Regions from separate parts of the Homo sapiens genome. Here regions 1 and 2 are each linked to region 3. Evidence: fine-mapped expression QTL. A gene starts in region 3. Each other region holds a variant in brackets. All regions are shown on one strand. Distances are between the middles of the regions. Region 1 overlaps MAU2 (MAU2 sister chromatid cohesion factor). Region 2 overlaps MAU2 (MAU2 sister chromatid cohesion factor). Region 3 holds the start of GATAD2A (GATA zinc finger domain containing 2A).

The links. PIP is the estimated chance that this variant, and not a neighbour inherited with it, causes the effect. A credible set is the group of variants that fine-mapping cannot tell apart.
Region 1: its variant is the best candidate, but not a certain one, in a credible set for the expression of GATAD2A in esophagus mucosa (GTEx, PIP 0.83).
Region 2: its variant is the best candidate, but not a certain one, in a credible set for the expression of GATAD2A in whole blood (INTERVAL, PIP 0.86).

Annotation. Positions count from the first base shown.
Region 1 is chr19:19,354,640-19,360,562 of GRCh38, forward strand. MAU2 (MAU2 sister chromatid cohesion factor) reads left to right here. Exons shown (of 19, transcript NM_015329.4): 18 at 625-752; 19 at 1,069-4,115. The coding sequence ends at 1,143. LOC124904656 (a long non-coding RNA gene) reads right to left here. Exons shown (of 2, transcript XR_007067163.1): 2 at 4,072-4,322. Among named protein-coding and RNA genes, the nearest start is that of MAU2, 37 kb to the left of the region's middle. The variant C/T (reference allele first, on the strand shown) is at 2,097.
Region 2 is chr19:19,330,323-19,336,994 of GRCh38, forward strand. MAU2 (MAU2 sister chromatid cohesion factor) reads left to right here. Exons shown (of 19, transcript NM_015329.4): 2 at 5,396-5,413; 3 at 5,800-5,865. Among named protein-coding and RNA genes, the nearest start is that of MAU2, 13 kb to the left of the region's middle. RefSeq lists enhancers at 5,361-6,560, 6,586-6,672. The variant T/C (reference allele first, on the strand shown) is at 2,855.
Region 3 is chr19:19,402,572-19,409,247 of GRCh38, forward strand. It overlaps GATAD2A (GATA zinc finger domain containing 2A), which reads left to right and starts at 3,104. Exons shown (of 12, transcript NM_001384528.1): 1 at 3,104-3,448. RefSeq lists enhancers at 2,260-3,168, 2,606-2,665, 3,169-4,075 and silencers at 2,786-3,335, 3,896-3,975.

The DNA.
Region 1 (5,923 bases), 48 kb before region 3:
GACTCGGGGTCTGGTTCAGTCTCTATAGGACACAGAGGCTGCGACTTGGTATCTGGTAGACTTGGGCTGTTAGCCGTGGCGCTCTCAGCCTTGCTTCTTCCCGGAAAGGCAGACAGCAGCCATACCTATTGGGTAGGGCTGGCCAGCTAGCTCTGGGAGCAGGGCGGGCACTCAGCGGGTATCATTGCTGTTACCGCAGCTCCCCCATTTCCAGATTACGAAACTAAGGTCCGGAGACTCGCCTGGGGCCCTGGGGAGGTGACAGGAGACGGGGTGCTCCATGTGCAGTGGGCTGCCTGGGGCTGCTGCCTCAGGATGGGCATTGGGCGTCCTGCCCCAATGAGCGCCTGTTTGCCTGAGGGCTGGCCATGGGCTCCCTGGAGGGCTGGCGAGAAGCCTGGCATTGGGCTTTCACTGCCCAGCCAGCCCTGTTCTGCCCTATGAGGGCGGCTGGCGCATGGGCTTTGTGATCCCAAGACAGGGCTCAGGTCCAGTGACGTGCCAGGCACCCAGAGATCCACCAGTGCAGCTGGGACTTGACCTTAGGGCTCCATCTGCACCGAGTGGGAGGGCCTGGGCAGTGACAGGGCAAGGCGGGCCCCCATGCTCATGTCCCACTCTCAGACCTGAATAAAGCCTGTGGGAACGCCATGGATGCCCATGAAGCCGCCCAGATGCACCAGAACTTCTCGCAGCAGCTGCTCCAGGACCACATTGAGGCCTGCAGCCTCCCCGAACACAACCTCATCACGGTACGGGTGTGGGTGTTAGGGGACGGGATCAGGACTAGCGGGCTCCCCACCTGCAAGAGGAAGGGGCACCTTGGCTGTATTTCTCTTTTGTCCAACAAACCCTAACTCAGCCTCAGGTGATCCCTTGATGGGGGAGATGGCCATGGGCACCCCCACCCAAGCAAGGGACCCAGGTGTCTCCTCGGGGCCCATTGGACTGGGGCATGGAGAACAGAGTCCCGGCTGTGTGAGCAGCCCAAGGAAGGCAGCATTCCAACCTCTTCTTCCCTGGGAACGGTCCACAGTGCCTCACTCGCATGTCCTCTCCTCCCCACAGTGGACAGACGGTCCACCCCCCGTGCAGTTCCAAGCTCAGAATGGACCCAACACCAGCCTGGCCAGCCTCCTGTGAGGCCTTGATGGGGCCATCCAGCTCCGCAGGGCCTGCGCGTCTCCGGCTTCCACCCAGACGGCACTCAAGCCTGCCCCCGAGGCGTGCTTCCTTCCTGATTGTCTCTAGAGCTTCCAAGTCCTGGGAATGTGCGGGGCCAGTCCCTGCCCTCCCAGGAGGGGTGGTAGCCGTTCCCACCTCGCAGCAGGACCCCCAGTGCAGAGGCTCACAGGTGGCACACAGGCGCTGTCTCTCCAGAGCCATCCTTCAGAGTGGACCTCAGTGCCAGTCCTGCCTCAGCATCTGGGTCACGTCGGCCAGGAGTAGGGTGCAGGCCTCCAGCAGGTCCTAATCCTGTGTGCCAGGGCAGGCAGTGCCCCAGGGGCACCACGCCTGACTCTCCATCACCCAGGCCTTGATGCCGAGCGGGAGTAGAGTGTTTCCTCTGCTCAAGGCAATTTCCAGAGCCCGGATGCCAGTTTCTGGCCTGAATTTGGAGGGAAGAAGTAATGGCGCTAGTGTGGGACGAAGCACAGATCCCAGCACTTTTCCCAGCTTTCTCTCCAGCATCAGTCCCTGCAGCAGCTGGGGCCTCTGGTCAGGAACCCTCAGGGACCCAGGAACTCAGCTTCCAAACATCTGCACCTTGACCGGACTCGCCATCCCGCCGTGGGGGTGCAGGTGATTGTAAACACGGGTGTGCATGTGGATGCACACGGGTGTGCGGTGAAGATCTGTGGAGATGGAGCTGGGAGCTGAGGCTCCTGTTGCACCAGCCACCTTCCCCCATCTTGTGGCTGCTGAGGGGCAGGAAGCGGGGGAGTGGGCTCGTCTCCTAAATTTAAGATCACCTCCTCAGCTAGCTTAGAGTGCGTGGCACGGGCCCCCCGCCCCCGAGATCTGGAGCCCAGGGACTTTCTTCCTGGCAGATCTGTGGCCTTCCCTGCTCAGCCTCTTGGTCCCCCCACTCCCTC[C/T]ACCGCCTCACCTTCCCTGCTGGGTCTCTGGGGCACAGTGTGAAACCCGCACCCTAGCCAGGCCCCAGGGAGCCTCCGCTGGGCCCAGACAGCAGCGTTTGGTTTTATCCACTTTTCTTGGATAATCAGGAGGTGCCCCAGTGGTCACAGTGTGGCATTCCGAGTTGGGGCGGGTGGTCGGGTCAAGATAGCAGCAGCAGGTGTCAGGGCTCAAGACACCACCCCCTCCAGCTTCTGGGGCCCAGGAGCCTCTCCCTGCTACAGGGGGTGGGGGTCCTGCTCAGCAGGGTAGGTGGTGGTTTTAGGTCTTGTCACCCTCACTCAGTGGAACTGCCTCTGGGAGCTTTGGCGTCTGTGACTAAAGGGACGCTGGATTGCTCAGGTCAGCTGCTTGGGGCTCCCAGGCTGGGTGTGCCTTAGCCACAGGCAGGGCTGTCAATAACCCCCTTCCTCACTGGCCACCACCTGACATCAGCACCAGTGACAGGCTGGTCAGAGGGCGGGGCTGGTGAGGGTTTGTCCTAAGAGGACCACCGCCATCTCTGGGTCTCCAGGGGGAGAGCCTGGCCCTGTCCTTTGCTACCCAGGGCTGCCCCCAGGCCCATGAAGCCAATAGGAGAGCGTGTGGCACTGGCCCACAAACTGTCCCTGTCCTGTCTTCCTCCCGAGCCATGGCCTCTGCTAGCTCCACCTTGAAGGAGCCCCCCACATCCTCCCCTACATCCCAGAGATGCCACCACTTGTGTCTCCACAATGTGCTCCTGCCCACCCGGGTTCCGCACTGTCCGACCCCTGCACACCACTCATGTCACCACGGCGTGCATCATGTTCATCCCCATCTATTTATTTAAGCCTTTCTTTGCTTGTAGGGCATTTTGTATGTAGAGCAGTTGAAAACAGAACCTCAGAACTTAACATCTGTCCTGATGTTAAAGTGCTTTTCATGACCACCCTGTTATCTATGTATATGTAAAGTTAAGGATGAGATCTTAAGTTTACAATTAAAAACTCAGTACTCAATATTTAATATTCTACTCGAGCTTTATGGAAGCCAAATCATGTGCATGTGTGTGTGTGCGTGTGTGCAAGCTTTGAACCTCCTTCCACAGCCGCATCTTCTCATGACACAAAGCTTTTGATAAGTACTTTCCTGTGGGTCGCTCAGCGCCTCATAGCATCTCATTCAATTGCAAGAATAGAGGCCAGACACGGTGGCGCATGCCTGTAGTCCCAGCTAACTGGGAGGCTGAGGCAGGAGGATCACTTGAGCCCAGGAGATTGAGGCTGCAGTGAGCATGATCGCGACACTGCACTCCAGCCTGGGTGACGGTGAGACTTTGTCTCAAAAAAAAAAAAAAAAACAATGGAAGGCAGACAGCAAGTCCCTGAGGACACATCACACAGTGTCCTGTAGCTAAGTGTCTAGGAAAAAACAAAAACTCCAAACCCTTCAGTGGATGAGGACAAGGTCGCAGAAAGGCATTCTGTTGACAGATGAACAGCCGAAAGCTGGCCAGACCCTCCTGTATGCCTCTGCCCTTGTCCTGTGGGTTGAGGGGGTCTGACCAGGAGGCCACCTACAGCAGGAAGTGAGGCTGCCATGTTTCCTTGAGACACAGCTGCCTCTCCCCAGCTCTGTCCCTGTAGTCACCTGCCGGTGGGCGAGGATCCTCTCCCTGGGATAAGCACTCCCAGCCCCGTTTATCAGAAACACAGGCAAGGAAATTGGAACTGCCACCCAGCCCAGCATGGTGGCTCAATTGGTTGGTTGCGTTGTCAGTTGTCTCTTCGTTTTGTTAAGGTTTTTAATAAGTACGTTTGGCATAATGTCTTTTAATGGGTTTGTAATATTTGTAACGGTTTTAGCAGCCTATAACTTTTCAGCTGGTGCTTTTACTTAGGGAAAAAAACAATTTGTAAATACAGAACATTGTTTAAAAGACATAACCATAGAACATAGCTTCCTGTTTGTGGATTTTGTTTCCTATATATTCAAAGTAAAATGACTTACAGGAGCCACGTGCTGTGTCTTTGTTGTTTCCTCTGTCCGCTTTGTGAGCCATCCCAAAGACGGCTGCCACCCTTGCTGCCATGCCCACAGGGGCCCCCTCTGTGGCGGGGTCTTCAGCATGAGGATGCAGTCCCCAAATCCTGAGCCAGATGACGTGAATGGAAGCCTGAGTCCCCATCTCCTCCACTGATCATTTTCCTCTGGTCTGGCCTCGCCTAGAGAGGAAGGAACCCCATGCTCCATCAGCATATGAGGCCTTCAGCAGCCTGCTCCTGGAATCCTCCCTTCCCAGCCCTCTCAGGGGCAGACTCCCTCATGCACCCAGGTGTCCTGGTCCCTGTGTTTTTTTTTGTTGTTGTTGTTGTTTGAGATGGAGTCTTGCACTGTCGCCCAGGCTGGAGTGCAGAGGCGCGATCTCTGCTCACTGCAACCTCCACCTCCCAGGTTCAAGCGATACTCCTGCCTCAGCCTCCCAAGTAGCTGGGATTACAGGTGCCCGCCACCAAGCCCAGCTAATTTTTTGTATTTTTAGTAGGAACAGCATTTCACTGTGTTGGCCAGGCTGGTCTTGAACTCCTGACCTCGTGATCCACCTGCCTTGGCATCCCAAAGTGCTGGGATTACAGGCCTGAGCCACCGCGCCCAGCCGGTCCCTGCATTCTTAGAGGGGACCAGCCTCCATACACCTGGGAGTGAGGGGAGTTATTTGCCCAGATTTTTTTGTTTGGAGGTGAAATTACCATAACAAATTTAACTTTTTTTGCAGGTTGTGCTGGCTTACGCCTGTAATCCCAGTACTTTGGGAGGCCGAGGCAGGAGGATCCCTTGAGCCCAGGAGTTCAAGAACAGCCTGGGCTACATAGTGAGACCTAGTCTCTACAAAAAATGTATAAAAATTAGCCAGGCAACCAGGTGCCGTGGCTCAAGCCAGTAATCCCAGCACTTTGGGAAGCCGAGGTGGGCGGATCACTTAAGGCCAAGAGTTGAGACCAGCCTGGCCACCATAGTGAAACCCTGTCTCTACTAAAAATACAAAAATTAGCCGGGTGTGGTGGCGTGCACTTGTAGTCCCAGCTACTCAGGAGGCTGAGGCAGGAGATTCACTTGCACCAGGGAGTGGAGGGTTTCAGTGACCCAAGATCCTGATACTGTGCTCCAGCCTGGGTGACAGAGTAAGACTCTCTCTCTCAAAAAATAAATAAATACAAATACAAAATATAAAAATTAGCCGGTATGGTGGCGCACAACTGTAATCCCAGCTACTCGGGAGGCTGAAGCAGGAGAATCGCTTGAACCCGGAGGCAGAGTTTGCAATGAACCAAGATCACACCACTGCCTGGGCGAGAGAGGGAGACTCTACCTCGAAAAAAAAAAATAGCCAGGCATGGTGGTGTGTTCCTGTAGTCCCAGTTACTTAGGAGGCTGAGGCGGGAGGATTACTTGAACCCAGGAGGATATTAGCAGAGACAGAGTCTTGCTCTATTTTATATGTATATAAAATAGTATTATCTGTAAAGTGGACTGCTCAGTGGTATTCAGTACGTTCACAGTGTTGCACAGTTATCATCTCTATCTAGTTCTGGGACATTTTCATTCCCCCAAAAGGAGATTCATTGCCATCAGCAGTCACTCCTCATTCCTCCTCCCTCCCCAAGCCCCTGGCAACTAGTAATCTGCTTCCTGTCTGTGAATTTGCCTGTTCTGGATATTTTATATCAATGGAATCTCATACCCTGTGACCTCTTGTAGCCTGGGATCTCTCAGCACTATGTTTTCAAGGTTCATCTGCACTGTAGCATGGATCATTGCTTTGTTC
Region 2 (6,672 bases), 72 kb before region 3:
GGTGGCTCACGCCTGTAATCCCGGCACTTTGGGAGGCTGAGGTGGTAGTATCTCCTGAGCCCAGGAGTTTGAGACCAGCCTGGGCAAGATAGCGAGACCCCCATCTCTACAAAAAAGTAAAACAATTAGTTGGGCCTGCCAGGCGCCATGGCTCACGCCTGTAATCCCAGCACTTTGGGAGGCCAAGGCGGGTGCATCACCTGAGGTCAGGAGTTCGAGACCTGCCTGACCAACATAGAGAAACCCCGTCTCTACTGAAAATACAAAATTAGCCAGGCGTGATGGCGCATGCCTGTAATCCCAGCTACTCGGGAGGCTGAGGCAGGAGAATCGCTTGAACCCGGGAGCCGGAGGGTGCCATGAGCCAAGATCACACCATTGCACTCCAGCCTGGGCAGCAAGAGCGAAAATTCATCTCAAAAAACAAAATTAGTAGGACCTGGTGAGATGCACCTGTAGTCCCAGCTACTTGGGAGACCGAGCCAGGAGGATCTCTTGAGCCCAGGAGTTTGAGGTTACAGTGAGGACCACTGCACTCCCCCTGGGTGGCAGAGGGATACCATGTCTAAAAACTACAATCAAAAAAAGCCTTTTTTTTAAAAGTTACTTTGGTTTTAAGGAATAAGAAGCCTTGAAACACTCAGCCCTGGACTGAATCCTCCAGGCACCAGAGCTGTGCTGGTCTGGACCCTTCCACCCCACTTGAAACCTGTTGGCCCTGTTGCAACCCTCTCTTGCTTTCCCTGAGAACCCTAAGGTGACCCCAGGGGCTGCTGATGGAGACAGTCACCTCCTTGCCCTGCTCCCTGCAGCCTCTCACTTTGGCTGCTTTGCTATCATAAGGAAGGAAACATAAAAGCTACTTTTTAGCATTACAAAGTTAAAAAAAAAAAACACCCGGGCACGGTGGCTCACACCTGTAATCCCAGCACTTTGGGAGGCCGAGGCAGGCAGATAACAAGGTCAGGAGACCGAGACCGTCCTGGCTAACATGGTGAAACCCGATTTCTACTGAAAATACAAAGAAAAATTAGCCAGGCGTGGTGGCGGGCGCCTGTAGTCCCAGCTACTCAGGAGGCTGAGGCAGGAGAATGGCGTGAACCTGGGAGGTGGAGCTTGCAGTGAGCTGAGATCGCGCCACTGCACTCCAGCCTGGGCGACAGAGTGCAACTCCGTCTCAAAAAAAAAAAAATCACGTAGATGAGGTAGCAACCTTGGGTAAGGCATTCTACATCCTTTATTTGTGAGATGGATATATTTTTCTGATTTCCAAATATATGCTACAAGTCATACAGAGGGCTGGGTGAGGTGGCTCACAACTGCAATCCCAGTACTTTGGAAGGCTGAAATGGGACGATCACCTGAGCCCAGGAGTTCAAGACCAGCCTGTGCAGCATAGCAAGACCTTCCCTGTCTCTACAAAAAAAAAAGAAAAACAAAACTCTAACAAAGATACAAAAGTGAAGTCATTTAGTAGGTGTCAGATTGATGGCCCTGGGGAATTGACTGGCTCACCCTGACACCAGGCCCATACTGCCCTTCAGGAATGTGTGTCCTCATGCAGAGAGATCCAGGTGTCACTGATGTCCCAGTGAAGAAGCAGTGGCATTTAAAGACAGGGAGAAATCCCATGCCATTTAGGGCTTTGTGTCTGAAAGGCATACGCCTCCGTTCTGTGGCCATTTGCACTTACACAGAAGCCCTCACTTTCCTCTAATGAACTCTACTCATTATCCAAGTGGATAAAGCCATCGTTCGATCAGCAGATGTTTCCCGAGCACCTACTGGATGTCAGCTTGCTGCAGGCATTGCAGCCACAACTTTAAAGTCAAACATCATGGGGCTTTTTTTTGTAAGAGTCAGGGTCTTGCCCTGTTGCCCAGGCTGGAGTGCAACAGCACAATCATAGCTCACTGCAGCCCCAAACTCCTGGGCTCAAGTGATCCTCCCACGTCAGCCTCCCAAGTAACTGGCATTACAGCATGCACCACCATGCCTGGCTGATTTTTTTTTTTTTTTTTTTTTTTTAGAGCGAGAGACAGGGTCTCGCTGTGTTGCCCAGGCCGGTCACAAAAAGAGGGGCTTTATCTAATGTCCTCTGTTTGTATGTATTTGAAGTGGGCGATAAAGCTACATGGGAAACGGATGTTAAAAAGCGCTAGGATGTAATTTCTCCAGTGCCTTAGAGCATCGCTAACTCACAGTGGATCCACACCTTGAACCCAATCCTCTGGCTCCCAGTCAGCGCTCCTGACACCCACTGACGCTAGTGGACGCCTTCCACAAGAGAATGCTTGTATTTGGAGCCTTTGGGCACATTACTTCCCAGCTCACCAGTGCTCACTGAGAGCCTCCCCTTCCTCAGGGGAGATGGGATCCTCTCTGTCTAGCCCACCCGTGGACGGACGGAGCTGGCAGAGAGGCGAGCCCGTTAGCAGCAGGCATATCTGGCTTGTAAAGAAGAGATGTCTTGGCCAGCCGCTGCGGCTCACGCCTGTAATCCCAGCACTTCGGGAGGCTAAGGCGAGCAGATCACCTGAGGTCAGGAGTTTGAGACCAGCCTGACCAACGTAGAGAAACCCCATCTCTACTGAAAATACAAAAATTAGCCAGGCATGGTGGCGCATGCCTGTAATCCCAGCTACTTGGGAGGCTGAGGCAGGAGAATCACTTGAACCTGGGAAGCGGAGGTTGCGGTGAGCTGAGATTATCCCATTGCACTCCAGCCTGGGCAACAAGAGCGAAACTCCATCTCAAAAAAAAAAAAGAAGAGATGTCCATGGGGTCAGGAGAAATGAGGTCCAGTCCAACTGTGTGCTGAATAGATTGATGTTAGCCACATCATGGCCCCAAA[T/C]GGAGAAGGGACACAAAGCTGTTGCTGGCCAAGCACGATGTCCAACGCCTGTAATCCCAGCACCTTTGAAGCCCAAGACAGGAGAATCACTCAAGCCTAGGAACTCGAGACCAGTCTGGGCGGCGTAGCCAGACCCCATCTCTACAAAAAATAAAAAAAATTAGCCAGACGTGGTGGTTCGCACCAGTAGTCCCGGCTACTCAGGAGGCTGAGGTGGGAGGATCACTTCAGCCCAGGAGGTCAAGGCTGCAGTGAGCTCTGATTGTACTGCTGCACTCCAGCCTGGACAACACAGTGAGACTGTGTCTCAAAAAAAAGGAAAAGCTGTTGCTATGAGGAGACATTGTTGGACCCACATGGGCCTGAGCTCGGTGGCATAGGCCAAAGCTTTGTAGAAGGGGGTGTAGTATTCTGAGGCATGAAGTGACTGGACATGTCCTTTTGAAGTCTACCCGCCACAGACATGCACGTGTGGGCTGTCGTCAGCTCTGGGGAGAGCATCCCATGGCCACAGACTGGAAAGGAAAGCTTCTCCGCCCAAAGGGAGGAGGGGGAATTCACGTGTTGACTGGTCGCCTTGCTTACCTCTGCTGGGATGCAGTGACAGAAATGGGGCCAGCTTTGTCACAGGTGCCAGGCTTAGCTGCAGGTGCCAGGTTTGCACCTTGCTCACCCAGGCTGGGGCTGCTGCTTGTGTGTGGCAGTGCTGTCTACCCTGGACTGTGTCTGAAGAGCTCCCCCTTGCCAGCCCCATGGTGCCCAAATCAGAACCACCAAATCTCAGGGTTCAGGGAGACCTCAGCCCAGCTCTAGTACGGCTCCTCTGTCACAGTCCCCTCTCTCCTGTGTGATTGGGCATCCCTTCCAGTTGGTGGCCTTCCAGAGCTTCTTGTGTTAGACCCGGCTTCTCAGTGGGATGCAGCAGCTTCTGTGGAAAAAAGCCCCCAACTTCTGCTCTTCTGTTGCATCACACACGTTGCCACTGTCCCCACACACAGCCTCTAGCTGAGGAGCCTCACCTCTGGGGCCACACTTCTGACGGCAGGTGCTGGCCCCGCCACTCTGAGGACCCCGAGCCCCTCCTGTCCGTGCCACAAGAGGGGACCACAGGAGGCAGACGCTTGGGCTGGCAGAGGGCCTGTGGTCTGGGCTCCTGCGTGTGGGTGCATGTGTGTCAGGGGCTCGGGCTCTCTCCCACAGCTGTCCTCCTGGCCCCCTGTGTCTTGGCAGTAGCTGCTCTCGATGCAGCTCTGTGCTTTCCCAGTGCCTGTGACATTCCCAGCTGCTGCTCACCCTTGCCCTAGAGATCTCCAGCCCCAAGGCTGCCCCCAGCCGTGGATCTCCAGGCCTCACTGGCTCCTCCGCACTCCCTTCGTGAATACTCTCTGCTGCATCCAGGATGGTCTGAAAACTCCCATCTGGGCAGGTGCTTTCATTTTCCACCCCTGACTGAGTCAGCTTCCAGGGGTGACACCAGGGCATTCTGACCCTCAGCTAGGAGTGGCCGCTGTTGCCGCATGAGTGGCAGAGACCATCGGGCTTCAGCCTCACCTCCCTGGCCCTCTGCCTTTTTTATGGGCTTTTCAGTGCCTGGAGCACCTCCTGCTCCCCCTTTTCCTGGAGAACTGGCCCCTCACTTCCCATACTTGCCACACATGCTGCCCTGCCCCATGCAGTCCTCCCACAGAGTGCGATGAGTTAGGGTCTCCTGCTGTGCTCCGGATCCACCTTCCAGCAACCACCGAGGCTCTTGTCAGGTGCAGGTTGCTCTGAATGTGTGTGGCACATGCGAGTCGCTGGGGACAGCGTTAGGCTTGTGTGCTTGGGACCCTGGGTGGTCTGATGGGCTGTGGTCAGTGGCCTGGACTAGCCTGGGAACTGTTGGAACATGGAACTTTAGGGCACAGTGGTCCCTGAGTTGGAGCCTGTTGTCTGAACTGCCTTCCTGGTGTGCATCTTCAGTGCCATCCCGCAGTTCTGCCTGTGTCAGCCCTTCCTGGAGCCCCCTCCCTCCCCTCTGAGAGACTGACTTTGCTTATAGCCAAGCATCTTTCAAATGCCTCTTGCTCAGAAGGACTAACCTTGCCCCCCAAGACCCATTCTCCAGTTGAAACTGATTTCTCGTGTTATGCTTTGCTGAACGTCCTTCCTCTCTGCCTGACCTCTGACTGCCAGCCCTACTTCCGTGTGACACCTGGGGGCCTTGCTGTGGCCAGGTCACCTCTGAGCTCTGTTCCTTTCTGAAGCAGCTCCCACCCATGGGCCTGTGGGGTCTGACTCCAAGTGCGAGCCCCTCCTCTGATGTCAGAAGGGCATGTCCCCTCCTGCCCAGGCACCCACTGGGGCTCTATAGCTTCCATTCCCCTGGCTGGATTGGAGGGGAGTAAGCCTACCCTCTCAGGCCAAGCGGGCCGCCTTCTTGTTACCTGGATACCTGGCAGCCTCTGTTCTCAGGACAACCTGTGGAAGCCCCAGAGCGAGCCAGTAACCAGGTGCCAGGTGTTTGCCTGAGAATTAATCGTTGTTTTCTTTCTTTTTCAGTGGTTGATATCACAGCAAGTATCCTTTCCGTGTTGGTATGGTTCCCTTTAAGGAATTCTCCACTTAAATAAAAAGAATGTATCAAAGCTTGAATCCCACCTCCCGACATGCCCTGTGAGTTGAGGCTCGGCCCACAGAGCACCTGGAGTGTCCCCCACCTGGCCCTCTGCTGCCCTTGGGCGCTGTGCTCCTCTTTGTGCTTCTCTTCGTACCTTGCATCCAGCTCCAAGCCCTGCCCTGCAGCAAGCTCAAGGTTCACTGGGGGAACAGGAAAACTTGGAATTTCAGGGCAGGCAGGGACGTGTGTGCCCTGCAGACCTTGGCAGGGTAGGAGCCCCAAGCTGTGGCCCTTTCAAACCGACCTTTTTCGCAGTGTCTGTACTTCCTTAACTGGACGTCACTAGATCCCGCAGTTCGAAGATGTTAAATTTGAAGCAGCAAGTCTGTTGTCTGAATTGTACTGTCAAGAGGTAAGAACATATTAAGGTTTCTGAAAGCAAAGTGTCTCTCCGTGTCGCTAAGACATGACAGCACATTGGTAAATTGGGGTTCCGGGAGTTGGAATCCCTCCGGCTTTTTTTGTTTTTTTGGTCGGGGTGGGAGGACAGGGTCTCACTCTGTCGCCCAGGCTGGAGTGCATGGCACAATCATGGCTCACCGCAGCCTTAAACTCCTGAGCTCAAGTGATCCTCCCACCTCAGCCTCCCGAGCAGCTGGGACTATAGGCATGCACCACCATGCCTGGCTAATTTTTTTTATTTGTTCTAGAGATGATCTCGCCCAGGCTGGCCTCAAGCAATCCTGCCTCGACTTCCCAAAGTGCCAAAATTATACACAGGAACCACTGTGCCCAGCCCGGTGGCTTTTAACACTCAGATTACTTTCCTGCCTCTTATGCCCCAGCCCCAGGGCTTTGGTGGGTAGCCACCTGCTAAGGAGGGCCAGCAGCTTCCTTTTCTACATAAGACTGTTGGAAAGATCAGCCTGTTCCTCACCTGACAAGTCTGTACAGTTTCTCTTCTTAATCTGGTTCCTAATTTCAATTGTAGCCGAAATCTGCCTTCCTCCCACCTCAGAATGATGACGGGTAAGGTGGCATTGGCAGCAGGGAATGTGTGTGCTTCACACCCTGATGCCTCTCTCTGGTCTGAGAACATAAAAGAAGGGAACTGGCGTCTGATTTGAGTGTTTAGAATTTTGAACTGAAACTACTTTCAGTCCAGTTGAATGAGAAGTTATTTTAAGAGTGATGCAGAAACTTCCCAGCCAGTGAGTCC
Region 3 (6,676 bases):
CCAGCTACTCAAGAGGCTGAGACAGGAGAATCTCTTGAGCCTGGGAGGTGGAGGTTGCAGTGATCCGAGATCGCGCCACTACACTCCAGCCTGGTGACAGAGCAAGACTCTGTCTCATTAAAAAAAAAAAGAAAAAAAGAAAGTACAGTATTAATTAACAACGGCTATCACTAAGGGTTTTTTTTTTTTGTTTTTGTTTTTTTGATTTTTTTTTTTTTTTGAGATGGATTCTGGCTCTGTCGGCCAGGCTGTAGCGTAATAGCGCGATCTTGGCTCACTGCAACCTCCGCCTCTTGGGTTCAGCGATTCTCCTGCCTCAGTCTTCTAAGTAGCTGGGATTACAGGCGTGCACCACCATGTCTGGCTAATTTTTGTATTTTTAGTAGAGATGAGGTTTCACTGTGTTGACCACGATGGTCTGGAACTCCTGACCTCAGGTGATCCACATGCCTCGGCCTCCCAAAGTTCTGGGATTACAGACGTGAGCCACTGTGCCCTGCCAGCACTAAGTATTGACTGTCTTTGTTTTCAGATCAGAGAGAAAACTTTTAGAAAACATGGTTCTAGCCCTAGTTGTTTCTTAATTAGAGTTTCTTCAGCTTTAGTATGGCATCTGAAGGTGATTGCATCATATTTCATAATCACCCAGCTGAACTATTTGCTGTTTAGTCCAGCACTGGGCACTGAGGCTAAAAGATCTTTAATCCAAACAGCCTCAGCATTCACCCAACCTGAGCCTATGGGACCCCAAGCAGATCTGGATTCACTGTCACTTACCATCTACCCATCTGACCCTGTCTTCCTATGACAGACAGAAATAAACCCTGTAGCTATTTCACCCCACCTACATACCCTGCACCCCTCCTACTCCCCGTCCGACTTTCCTGGCTGAGAAGTTGGCACTGCCCTCTGGAGCAGGCCCTGTCACCAGTGCACCCCTCACTCCACAGGGGTGTGTCATTAATGTGTTGCAGTTGATGCCTCCCTCTTAAAAAAAAAAAGGGGTGGTTGTCACCCTGGTGACTCACACAGGGCTTGCTGGCTCAAACTCTGGAATCTGTATATCTGTCTCAAGTGTCAGGTCTCCCACCTGACCACACTTTGCTCTGTTTGTAGTTAATTAAATTGACATTAATCAAGACCCAGGTGAGGAGCAGTGAGGTAATAGTTTGCTTGTATTGCTTTAATATACATCATCTGATTAATGATCGTAGCATGAAGCAGTTCTTAAAATATACAGCCACCATGTTAGGGTGAAAAACCTGGATGGTTGCCCTAAACCAACCTTGCGCTTGGGATCAGGGAGCTCTTTGAATTCCTATACCGAGTCACCTGTTTGAGAATAAGACTGTTTTGTTTGTTTGGTTTCTGAATTTGAACATTTGAATTTCTTTGTAGCAAAGCAAAGCAAATTGGTGACATAACTGGGTCAGGGAAAGTGATTGGGAGTCAACAGTTTGTATTTTGTATCATTTTTAGGTTGAATTCTCTTTTGGCCTAGGGGAGGTTGTGCCAGATGTTGCATTAAGTAGTGGGAAGATTTTGGGGGGCAGGGCGGTGTGTTTGGGGAGGTGTGAGGTGGCGGGGTGGAATAAACTACAAAAAGTTGACAATTGTATGTAGAACTCAACACAGAATTAGGAGCTTTTTTGAACTCTGTTTAAGGGGACATACAGCAGAAAAACAATTTTTTTTTTTTTTAGAAAAACAATTTTGTAAAATTTGTTCTACATGAAGTGTTTTTCAGGTTTGCGGTTGAGACCCAATTATTCTTGGGCGTTACATTGATTTTCTTTTCAAATGAAGTAGAATAGAAATAACAGTACAGGCTGGGTGCAGTGGCTTATGCCTGTAATCCCAGCATTTTGGGAGGCCGATGCGAACAGATCACGACATCAGGAGATGGAGACCATCCTGGCCAAGATGGTGAAACCCCGTCTCTACTAAAATACAAAAAAAAAATTGCCGGGTGTGATGGAACGCGCCTGTAATCCCAGCTACTGGGGAGGCTGAGGCAGGGGAATCCGTGAACCTGGGAAGTGGAGGTTGCAGTGAGCCGAGATAGCGCCACTGCACCACTCCAGCCTGGCGACAGAGCAAGACTCTGTCTCCAAAAAAAAGAAAAAAGAAAACAGTACGTTGCATGTGGTAAATTTATGTTTGGTGAAACTTTTGTTTCAGTTGTACATATAGATTTATTAGGGTATGCGATAAAGCATGTCACCACCACTCTTCAGGAGTCTAGGTGTCTCATCAGGAATCGTTTGTTTTAAAACAACATGAAAAGAGGCGGTTTTGGGGATTCCTCAGAACCTGATTTTGGTATTGAGAGCCTTCTTGTGGTAGATTTTCCATGAACTTGATATTTTCCCTATTGAAATTGTATTTCGCTTTATGTAGTTTAACATCTCCAAAGTCCATTCTCTTTCAGGCTTTCATTCTGTCTCCTGTGTTTCCTCCTTGTTACTGGAGAGGGAGGGGTGCAGATTTGCTTTCTTGAGGGGTTTTCACCTTCTCCCTGAGGCACGAGGGCAGATTGGGAGGTAACTGGAGAGGGAGAGCAGTCGTCCCCAAGTGTCTTGAGGTGGGTGGGTCTGGAGCTTTCTTTGTAGAATTCTGTTCACTGCACTGGAGAAGTGATCGTTCAGCCGATCCACACCCCGCCCTCCCCACAGACACCGGGGCCGAAGTTCCCAGAGAAGAGCTTCCGCGTGACGACCCCGCGGGGGTGACATTCTAACCCGCGTTTCAGAGGCAACCCTGAGTTGCTTGAGGTCGCCCAGCTCAGCTGGCGCGAGGTCAGCAGTGAGCGCGTCGTGAGTCAGCCTTGGGTGCGGCCCGCCCGGCTTTGCCGCCGGTGAGTTGGCCACGACCCTTCGGCCTGCGGAGGGCGCTGGGACTCGGCGGGGAGGGAGCCAGCCGGAGCCCGCGTGGGAAACCAGCGCGCCCAACGAGGTGTCGCGTGGGAGCGCGCCGGAGAGGGGCGGTGCTTCCGGGGCGGTACCGTCCGGCCCCGCCCCCTCAACTCAGGGGCCCGCCTTCTACGCCTGGAACCCCGCCCACGAGCTCCTCCCTTCTCGTCAGGCCCCGCCCCTCGGTCGCCACGCCCCGCCCAGCCGGGCGCGGGCGGGCGGCGTCGCCTTTAAGAGCTCCCCGGTGTTTTGGGGGCCGCGGGCCGGGCGCGCTGACCTGGTGCGCATGTCCCGGGCGGTGACGCCGGCGCCGGGCTCCATGTGTGCGGCCGAGGGGCGCATTATCTGGCCGGCGGCGCGGGCGGGCGGGCGGACCGGCGCAGCGAGCGCCGCGGGCCCGGGCGGCCCCACAGGCGGAACGAGCGCGCGCGGCCCGGCGTCCCCGGCCCCTCCGCCGCCCGGCCCCGCGGGCGACCCCGGACCAGCAGCCCCCGTAACCTGCGCGCTGCCCTAGGGCCCGGCCGACCCGCGGCCCGGTAAGTTCTGGACCAAACTTGGCGGGGGGCGGGGGCTGGGGACGCACGGCTGAGACTGGAGCGGCGCGGGCCGCGCAGGGTCGGGGCCTCGGGGGGCTCTGAAGGACCCCTGCATGAGCGTGGAAAAGTGAGAGCGAGCGAGTTCTACTCCTTGTATTCTGGGAGCGTCTTCTTGCGCTGCCCTGGAAAGTTCCTTGCCCCGAGGCGGCCCGGGCACGTGGGGGCCGGGCGGGGGTCCCGGAAAGTCGCGGCGTCGCCCCGCTTCCGTCCTGCGCTTCCTGCGGGGTCGGGGGAAGGGCTGGGCCGCGAGGCGCCTCTTCCGAGTGGTCGGGACGGGTGGAGGCGGCGGGAAGACGGCACGTGGGCGCGCGGGGCGGGGGTCCCGCTCAGGGGCGGGGGTCCGGGGCGGGTTGGGCAGCAACGCTGAACCCCGCGGCGGCGGCGGCGGCGGCGGCGGCGGATCCCGTGTCAGAATAAGAGTCCCCGCGCGCCCACGCCTGGAGGGCCGGCCCTCCCCCAGCTCGCGCCCTTCCTGCCTAACCCCCGGGAGCCGCGGGACCCTTTCCCCTCTCTGATCTCCGGCCTTTCTCAAGGCCCGACACTTTAAATTTGCCTCCCCATCTAGGCGGTGGCTCCATTGATTTCTTTTTTCCCACCTAGAGTGGGTCGGCATCAGTGACTAGACAGCAGCAGCTGGCCTTTTAAAGGGATTATTGCCAAGAATCGGAATTGATCACTTCAACAAGGAAAGGCTTATGGGCAGGGCCCAGGCTGAGAGCCTGACGGACACTTGGATTGTGCGCACACTGGGACCCAGAAATGAATGGTGACCCCTCCCTTAGGAAGTGAATGACAACCCTTAGGTGCGTGTTTCTGCCCTGAGAATTTTGCACAGGGCAAAATTTTGTAGGTCTGACTTAACGTCTTTAGGTGTATAGTTCATCCTTATCTTAAGAGCTGTGGATTCTTTAGATCAAAGTCCGAGTGAGTCACTTGAGCCTTTAATTTTCTTTCTTCCTACCAGTTTACTTCTTTCAGTTTTCTTGGAGTACATAGTGCTGGTTACATCTCTGGTTCTGTGTGCCCATTCACACAGTGACACCTCCTGGCTGTGGCAGCACAGAAACTGAGAGCCCTCTGTGCGGGTGTCTCAGTCTTGGACTGTAGTCCTGTTGACTGACTTAACTCTTCTGGTAGTCGTTACAAGTTTTCTTTTAAACTAGATTACATGAAATAATGTTTGTTGGCACCAGTTTGTTAACATATGCTAAGCAGTAGTTTGTCAGACCTGACCACAAGCTGTGGAGGGCTGATAGCTCATACTAGCCCTCGGGTTTGAGTGCCTACTGTGTGCTAAGCTCCCCTGCACAGACATATTCAGTGCCTATAACAATCCCGTGGGGAGTAGGGAAGTATTATCTGCGCTTTACAGGTCAGGAAATTGGGGCTGCTGGAGGCCAGGCGGCTTGCTCAAGGCCTCTTAGTAGTGAGGCAGAGCCAGGCAGCCCGTACTTGGTGCTCTAGAGCCCACAAATGCTGCAGTTTGCGAACCCTAGTGAGCATTTCCCTGGCGCTTCTAAAATACAAGGCCATTTTCTTGTCCAGGATCCAGGGCACCTCTGTTTGCGGATGTAGGGGATAATCTGGTGACATGGGGACACCATGCTAGCCCTGCTTTGTTCTAGTGGAGCAGCGTTACCAGCTGGATTTTAAGGAACTGAACTACAGAGTTAGTTGCTACTTTGCATTCGCTTCTTCAGCTTTGGACTCAGAAAAGTTGGCCCTTTTCTAGAGGAAACAGTTTATAGGATGTGGGAAATTTGCAAGGGATTTTCTGTATCCTCTGTCTTCACTTATTCCCTCCCCTCCTTCATCTTTCAGTTCTTATTTGTCTCATAAAATTCCGAAGCTGGTTTTTATGAAGATTGCTTCTCATCTTGGAAGGGCTATAGAGAATGGAAAGATTTGGATGCAGTGTGTTTTGTTTGTTTGTTTGTTTTTTTGAGACGGAGTCTCGCTCTGTCATCCAGTCTGGAGTGGCACGATCTTGGTTCACTGCAACTTCCGCCTCTCAGGTTCAAGCAATTCTCCTGCCTCAGCCTCCCGAGTAGTTGGGACTACCATGCCCGGCTAAGTTTTGTATTTTTAGTAGAGACGGGGTTTCACCATGCTGGCCAGGCTGGTCTCGAACTCCTGACCTCGTGATCTGCCCACCTCAGCCTCCCAAAGTGCTGGGATTACAGGCGTGAGCCACCACGCCTGGCGGATGCATTGTTATTTCCACTCAGATGACATCATTTTTTAAAATGTCAAGTCATCTCTATTAATGCAGTATCATTTGGCAAATCCTATAATCTTATATTTTGATAGTGAGGGAAAAATATAATGCTACTTTCGGTAGGAAAAAATCCTGGAAGGATTTGTACCAGAATGTCAATAAAGGTCTCTACATTAGGATTAGCAATAGTTTTTCTTTTTTAGAAAACTTTTTAGTGTCTCTGTATTTTGCGTGTGTGTGTATGTTTTTAATGAGGAAACATGTTTTAAATACTCTAATTTTCAACTCTTCAGTAGCTCCTCTGACTTGTTTTGCATCATTTATTTTCTGAATTTCTGGCATTGCAGGTAGTGATTTCTAGATTGATATATTCAACAAATATCAGAGTGCATACTGTGCCTTCGACACTGCGAGGAATCCCTCCTCAGTAGAGTTTATAGTGAGATTAGTGGGCCAGGAGTCGTAATTAATCTTATAAACATGGGGAAACTTACAGGGATCAAGGAGAGAAGGACACTGTGACCTGGTGAGCCCGAAAGGACCTTTCTCCTACTGGGGTCAGAGAACAAGAAGGGGGACCCTCTTGAAGGGGATTAAGGCAAGGGCTGGTGCAGTGAGGCTCACAGCCGGGACCTCTTTGGGTCTTAGCAGATGACTAAAGGATGCCTCTGAAGAATGTGGCTGGTAAAGTTGTAAAGCCATTCTTGAAATGTTGGCTTTTTTTTTTTTTTTTTTTGGTGTTTGTTCTCTTGGAAGAAAATTAAGAATGACCAGCAGAGTTTTGGATATATGAATTCCCAACAGAGACAAAAATGTAATGGCCCTTACCACTGAATTTGTTTAAGGACCATCATTAGCATGTACTGACACCTCAAAGCCTGGGCAGCTCAGATGCTTTTCTGGAGAACTACCTGCTTGGACTCGGGGTGTTTCTGTGCCATCAAATGGAA